2 linked regions of the Homo sapiens genome follow. The protein of the gene in region 2 purifies or fractionates together with the protein of the main gene of each other region. This does not show direct contact. Each region holds a gene or a part of one and is shown on either strand. Other genes may lie near its edges.

Region 1 (3,820 bases), about 100 Mb from region 2:
CACAATCTTGGCTCACTGCAACCTCCGCCTCTGGGGTTCAAGCGATTCTCCAGCCTCAGCCTCCCAAGTAGCTGGGATTACAGGTGTGCGCCACCACACCTGGCTAAGTTTTCATATCTTTAGTAGAGATGGGGTTTCACCATGTTGGTCAGGCTGGTCTCGAACTCCTGACCTCATGATCCACACGCCTCATCCTCCCAAAGTGCTGGGATTACAGGCATGACATTCTGCTTCCTAAGAACTTTGTGCAAATCACCAATGGGCACTTAGGCTGAAGTCCCAACTCCAGGCCCTTCTTGGCCTCTACACAGCACAATATAAGGGGCCCCAAATTGGACTGCCGAGAAAGAAGTGTGACTTACTGCTTTTCGTTCTCTGGGGCAAGGGAGAGAACAGAGTTAGTGGAAATGCACGTATGCAGTTGGTTCAAGGAGATCTCTGTCTGACAGCACTTTTGCTCCTAGAGCCCCAACGGTAAACTGACTGATTTCCTGAGCTTCTATACGCTCCCCTCCACGGTGATGCACCACCCTGCTCACAAGAGCCTCAAAGCCGCCTACTCATTCTACAACATCCACACAGAGACGCCCCTGCTGGACCTCATGAGCGACGCGCTCATCCTGGCTAAATCGGTAAGCCACTCCTTCCTGTTCACGCCGTTTGGTTCTCCAAATGTCTGTGCCAAACTATAGAAGACATCTTACTGTGTTTTCTTCCACACAGGTGGAATTTATGCGAGACTTTAAAAAAACTATTGATCATCAGTCAAAGGAAGAATTTTGATAAGAGTTTCTTTTGAAACTTTAGAGGCTATTTTCATCATTAATTTTATGGCAGTTTAACAAAAAAGACAAAATGTACAAATTATAAATGTTTAATCCTTATATAAGAATATATAAGGCTGGGCATGGTGGCTCAGGCTTGTAATCCCAACACTTTGGGAGGCCGAGATGGGTGGATCACCTGAGGTTAGGAGTTTAAGACCAGCCTGGTTAATATGGTGAAACCTCGTCTCTACTAAAAATACAAAAGTTAGCCAGGCTTCGTGGTGTGTGCCTGTAATCCCAGCTACTCGGGAGGCTGAGGCAGGAGAATTGCTTGAACCTGGGAGGCAGAGGTTGCAATGGAGCTGAGATTGCACCACTGCACTCCAGCCTGGGTGACAGAAACTGTCTCAAAAAAAAAAAAAAAAAAAAAAAAAAAAAAAAAAATATATATATATATATATATATATATATATATATATATATATAAAGCCCATATCTTAGGAAGTAATATAAGGAAAATATTAATACATGAGTGAATATTTTTGTTGAGTGAATAACTAGCAGCAATTTTTTTATTCAACCAAATAGTCTCTGAATTTTAAAATTAAAGGAATGAAATTCAAAATTTAATTGTAGCCAGTCTACATGGTGAAACCCTGTCTCTACTAAAAATACAAAAATTAGCAGGGTGTGATAGCACACACCTGTAATCCCAGCTACTCGGGAGGCTGAGGCAAGAGGATTACTTGAACCTGGGAGTTGGCGGTTGCAGTGAGCCGAGATTGCACCATTGCATTCCAGCCTGGGCCACAGAGTGAGACCCTGTCTCAAATTAATTAATTAATTAAAATAAAATAAAATAAAAATCTCTTACCTGTGCCTTTGGATCCCCAAGTCAACATCATCCTCAGATTGTCTGCTTTTTTTCAACACTTCCCAAATATGGCCAGTAATTAGTTATTTAAGGTAAAAACCCTGAGAAATAAAAATAAAAAGTGCTTCTTCTATATCACATTTTGCATAGTATTATTGTCTGACATTTTAAAGAAATTTAATTTTTTACCATTAAAATTTTACATAAATATATTTCCCATTATCAGCCCAAAGCAAACATACTATTTTTTTATACTTTTTTTTTTTTTTTTTTTTTTGAGATGAGTCTTGCTGTGTTACCCAGGCTGGAGTGCAGTGGCACAGTCTCGGCTCACTGCAACCTCTGCTTCCCATGTTCAAGTGATTCTCTTGTCTCAGCCTCCAGAGTAGCTGGGACTATAGGTGTGTGCCACCACACCTGGCTAATTTTTGTATTTTTAGTAGAGACAGGGTTTCATCATATTGACCCGGCTGGTCTCGAACTCCTGACCTCAGGTGATCCACCTGCTGCGGCCTCCCAAAGTGCGGGGATTACAGGCGTGAGCCACCACGCCCGGCCTGCATACTATTTAAAGTCTTTACAACTTTGGTCCCTGGGCAATAGCTTCAGCCAAGGTAGGACTTAGAAAGGCTAATAATTAATAATCCTGGAGATGAAACCATCTTGACAACTGTTCCCTTCTAAAACAAGAACGAGGCTGGGTGCAGTGGCTCATGCCTGTAATCCCAGCACTTTGGAAGGCCAAGGCAGGTGGATCACTTGAGGTCGGAGTTCAAGACCAGCCTGGCCAACACGGTGAAACCCGGTCTCTACTAAAAATACAAAGAAATTAGCTGGGCATGGAGGTGCACACCTGTAATGCCAGCTACTAGGAAGTTTGAGGCAGGAGAATTGCTTAAATCTGGGAGGTGGAGGTTGCAGTGAGCCGACATCATGCCACTGTATTCCAGCCTGGATGACAGAGTGAGACTCCATCTCAAAAAAATTTAAAAATAAATAAATAAAACATAAATAAAATATTTTCTGAAATCTTCATAAGTAATTTTATGCCAGTGACAGCCATCATACTACATTTTTAACATTTTTGGGATTCAGCGTTTCTGAATTTTCATGCTGACTTCATTGGATTCACTATAGTTTGTTTGTTTTTTGAGACAGGCGCTCACTCTGTTGCTCAGGTTTAAGTGCACTGGCACAATCACAGCTCACTGCAGCCTCGACCTCTTCGGCTTATGCAATCCTGCCTCAGCCTCCTGTGTAGCTGGGTCCACAGGCACACACCACCATGCCGAGTCAATCTTTTTATTTTTGTAGAGACAATGTCCTGTACCTACACCTACACCTATACCTACAGCCTATGCCCAGGCTGGTTTCAAATTCCTGGGCTCCAGTGAGCCTCCCACCTTGGCCTCCCAAAGTGCTGGGATTACAGGCGTGAGCCACCACATCCAGCCACACTGCTAGTTTTATAAGACAATTTTCAACTGAATTCTTCCTCTTTTTAAAGAAAGAAAAAAAAAAAGTCTCACTCTGTCGCTCAGGCTGGAGTGCCGTGGCACAATCTCGGCTCACTGCCACCTCTACCTCCCAGGCTCAAGCAGTTCTCCTGCCTCAGCCTCCTGAGTAGCTGGGACTGCAGGTGTGCGCCACCACATCTGGCTTATTTTTGTTATTTTTAGTAGAGATGGGGTTTCGCCATGTTGGTCAGGCTGGTCTCGAACTCCTGACCTCAAGTGATCCACCCACCTCAGCCTACCAAAGTGCTGGGATTATAGGCATGAGCCACAGCATCCGGCCCTGAATTCTTAACCTATGCTATATATCACGGACGTTAAATCCTATTAGAAATGCATATTCGAGCTATTAGTAGAATTGTTAAACTGAGATATGTAATACAGAAAACACTAGTCCTTTGTTTTAAATTTTAAATCTTTTTTAAATTGGCAGAAAGGATTTGATGTATTCAATGCACTGGATTTGATGGAAAATAAGACATTCTTGGAAAAACTCAAGTTTGGTATAGGAGATGGCAATTTGCAGTATTACCTGTACAATTGGAGGTGTCCAGGTACAGATTCTGAAAAGGTAAGTGAAATGGATATAGCCCTTGTAAACTCAACAAATGTACCTAGACAATTTCATACTTGCTTCACTTAGACTTAAGACAGCTTTATTTTAT
Region 2 (3,820 bases):
GGGTGTGGTGGTTCATGTCTGTAATCATCTCAACGGAGGCAGGAGAATCACTTGAGCCTAGGACATCGAGACCAGCCTGGCCAACATAGTGAGACCCCAGAAACCCCATCTCGACAAAAAATATAAAAAAAATAAAAATGAAAAAAATTTAAAAGGACCTAATAACAAGTTAGATTTAGTAAACAAAAAATCTTTAAAAATCTGTATGGCAGGTGGGGGAGCTGTTAGAGGGGACAGGGCCTGGCAGGCACCTCCTGGCCCTGAACTGACCCTCCTGGCAAAAAAATTATTAACAACAACAAAATCTACATTTATTTTGGCCGGGCACAGTGGCTCACACCCGTAATTCCAGCACTTTGGGAGGCCAAGGCATGAGGATCACTGGAGCCTATGAGTTTGAGACCACCCTGGGCAACACAGCAAGACCCCATCTCTACTAAAAATGAAAATAAAATTTAAAAAATCTATATGTACTATCAAAGTAAGAGTCTTTGTCCTGCTCTAAAACTTTTTAATTAAAACAAGAAAAAAAAAAGAGTCTTTGATAAAACTGAACAGAAGGAACAATTTACCTGAAACGGGTCAGCAAACTATGGCCCACAGCCTAGCTGCCTGTCCTTGAAAATAAAATTTCATTGACCACAGCCATGCTGAGTCATTTATGTACGTGTCCTCCATGGTTGCTTTTGTGCTACCTAGGCAGTTGAGTAGTTGGGGCAGTGACCATATGGCTCACAAACCTAAAATATTTACTGTCTGGCAAGGAAAAGTTTGCTAATCCCCTGCTCTAAAATAGTCATAAATAGTCCAAATCAGTAACCTTGAACTACTAGAGCTAAACAGAAACTTCAGACCAAAGGTGGTATTTCACCACATGCTATTTATAGCAAATGTGCAACACAGCAGAGCACACAGTAACATCTAGTGCTGCGAACTGTCTGCCAACAAAGTTAACACTTTTTTATAATTAGAGGTGATACCTGGTGAACTCCTGGACCGCTTCTATCTTGGGGTGATACACCACAATTCTTTTCTTTAGCATCAGTGCTGTGTGTAAGATAACAGTTTCCATTCCAAACTGAGATACAATGTCTTCAAAAAAGAGAAATTGTAATGTTACTGCATTACACATCATGCAAAGAAATAAAGATTTTTTTTTCTTTTTTTCTTTTTTCTTTTTTTTTTGAGACCGAGTCTCACTCTGTCACCCAGGCTGGAATGCAGTGGCAAGATAGTTGCTCACCGCAACCTCTGCCTCCTGGGCTCAAGCGATTCTCCTGCTTCAGCTTCCCGAGTAGCTGGGATTACAGGCACACACCACCACACCTGGCTAATATTTGTATTTTTAGTAGAGACGGGGTTTCACCATGTTGGCCAGGCTAATCTCGAACTCCTGACCTCAAGTGATCCACCCACCTCAGCCTCCCAAAGTGTTGGGATTACAGGTGTGAGTCACAGCACCTGACGTACAAAATTATTTTTAATACAGAGAATTTAGGCAAATGTTGTAAAGCATACAAACACTTTATTTGGTGGAAGAGTAGATCTATCCTATGTCAGCTTCCCAGGACGTGTGCTCTGCCCCGCAAGGGACTCTATGATGGGATGCATAGAGGAAGCTAGACTCACAAAAAACTGAAACAACTGATGTGAAGGGAACCAGCATCTTTCTGTATCATTAAAACTTCCTGATTTAAAAAAAAAAAAAAAAATGTCTGCCAGGTGCAGGGTGACTCATGTCTGTAATACCAACACTTTGGGAGGCCAAGGTGGGAGGATCACTTGAGCCCAGGAGTTTGAGACCAGCCTGGGCAACACAGGGAGACTGTCTCTAAAAAATGTTTAAAAATTAGCTGGGGCTGGGCACAGTGTCTCACACTGTAATCCCAGCGCTTTGGGAGGCCTAAGCAGGCAGGTCATCTGAGGTCAGGAGTTTGACACCAGCCTGGCCACCATGGTGCAACCCCATCTCTACCAAAAATACAAAATTAGGCTGGGCACAGTGGTTCACACCTGTAATTCCAGCACTTTGGGAGGCCGAGGCGGGTGGATAACCTGAGGTCAGGAGTTCGAGACCAGCCTGGCCAAAATGGTGAAACCCCATCTCTACTAAAAATACAAAAATTAGCGGCCGGGCGCGGAAGCTCATGCCTGGAATCCTAGCACTTTGGGAGGCCGAGGCAGACGGATCACCTGAGGTCAGGAGTTCGAGACCAGCCTGACCAACATGGAGAAACCCCATCTGTACTAAAAATACACAATTAGGCAGGCGTGGTGGCACATGCCTGTAATCCCAGCTACTTGGGAGGCTGAGGCACTTGAACCCAGGAGGCGGAGGATGCGGTGAGCCAAGATCGCGCCACCCAGCCTAGGCAACACTTGTTGGAGCAAAACTCCATCTCAAAGAAAAAAAAAAAAAAAATTAGCTGGGTGTGGTGGCAGGTGCCTGTAGTCCCAGCTACTTGGGAGGCTGAGGCACGAGAATCACTTGAACCTGGGAGGCAAAGGTTGCAGTGAGCTGAGATTGTGCCACTGCACTCCAGCCTGGGTGACACAGTGAGACTCTTGACTCAAAAAAAAAAAAAAAAAAAAAAATTAGCTGGGCATGGTGGTGTGCACCTGTAGTCCCAGCTACTCGGGAGGCTGAGGTGGAAGGATTGCTTGAGCCCAGGAAGTTAAGGCTACAGTGAGCCGTAATTGTACCACTGCACTTCAGCCTCAGTAACAAAGCAAGACCCTGTCTCAAAAGGAAAAAAAAAAGTCTATTAACTCCCCCATGTCCCCCAGTATAATTACTTAAGTCCTTAAGTTAGCCTGACAAACACCTACCACCTCAACAGGGATGCTGAGAAAATTCAAAGAACAGCGGGATCAAAAGGAAAGACAGATGGGCACCATGGGAGGACATGACAGAGGGCAGCCTCGCCTTCAGAGTTCCCCTCGCCTCCTGCTCAGGGACCCTGAAGTCTGTGGCTTAGGCCTGAGCTGTCTGCATTTTGGATTTTCCAGCTGGAACTTAAATTAGGAGTTTGTGGTCAAGGCCTTGGGCTCTTCAGATGACAGAGATAACTGCTAAGATCTAAGAAAAGAAATGTAATCCATGAAGACCTCGAGGCACAAAATTCAGCCCACCAGCGAGAAAATATTTCTAAAATAGCCAATAGAATAATATGGAAACAAACACCACAAAAACCTGTTTTCCTCTGAGAGAATTCTAACTCAATAAGGAAATACGGGGGTTAAAGGCACCCTCTTGTGTACAAATGATATGAAAAATATGTAAATGAAAATAACGTATGGAAGGATTAGAATTATCTAATAACTAGATAATTCTAATTAGATAATCTAATTATGTAATTATTCTATTAGGCACAATAGGATCTAATGAGACTGTTTTTGGCTTGGGGATTTTGTTGTTGGAAGGGTTTTGTTTTTACCTTCTTTTTTTTGTTTTTTGTTTTTTTTTTGAGACGGAGTCTCGTCTGTTGCCCAGGCCGGAGTGCAGTGGCACAATCTCGGCTCACTGCAACCTCCGCCTTCCAGGTTCAACTGATTCTCCTGCCTCAGCCTCCCGAGTAGCTGGGATCACAGGCGGGTGCCACCACGCCCGGCTAATTTTTTGTATTTTTAGTGGAGACGAGGTTTCACCATGTTAACCAGGATGGTCTCGATCTCCTGACCTCGTGATCCACCCGCCTTGGCCTCCCAAAGTGTTGGGATTACAGGCGTGAGCCACCGTCCCTGGCCTGTTTTTTCCCTTCTTACCTTTGATGGAGCCAGCCAGGTAGGCCTTTCGGGCATCAAAATCCTTACTAAGGAA

What was found.
Region 1: the proteins of DENND10 (region 2) and NMT2 purify together in Homo sapiens (affinity purification with mass spectrometry; one large-scale study listed by BioGRID and IntAct). This does not show direct contact.

The regions. Positions count from the first base shown.
Region 1 is NC_000010.11:15,109,608-15,113,427, reverse strand, and holds part of NMT2 (glycylpeptide N-tetradecanoyltransferase 2), read left to right. Parts: intron 1-464; coding exon 465-632; intron 633-1,641; exon of another isoform or gene 1,642-1,900; intron 1,901-3,588; coding exon 3,589-3,726; intron 3,727-3,820.
Region 2 is NC_000010.11:119,117,613-119,121,432, reverse strand, and holds part of DENND10 (DENN domain-containing protein 10), read right to left. Parts: coding exon 3,766-3,820; intron 1,093-3,765; coding exon 981-1,092; intron 1-980. UniProt on the Homo sapiens protein: Guanine nucleotide exchange factor (GEF) regulating homeostasis of late endocytic pathway, including endosomal positioning, maturation and secretion, possibly through activating Rab proteins such as RAB27A and RAB27B.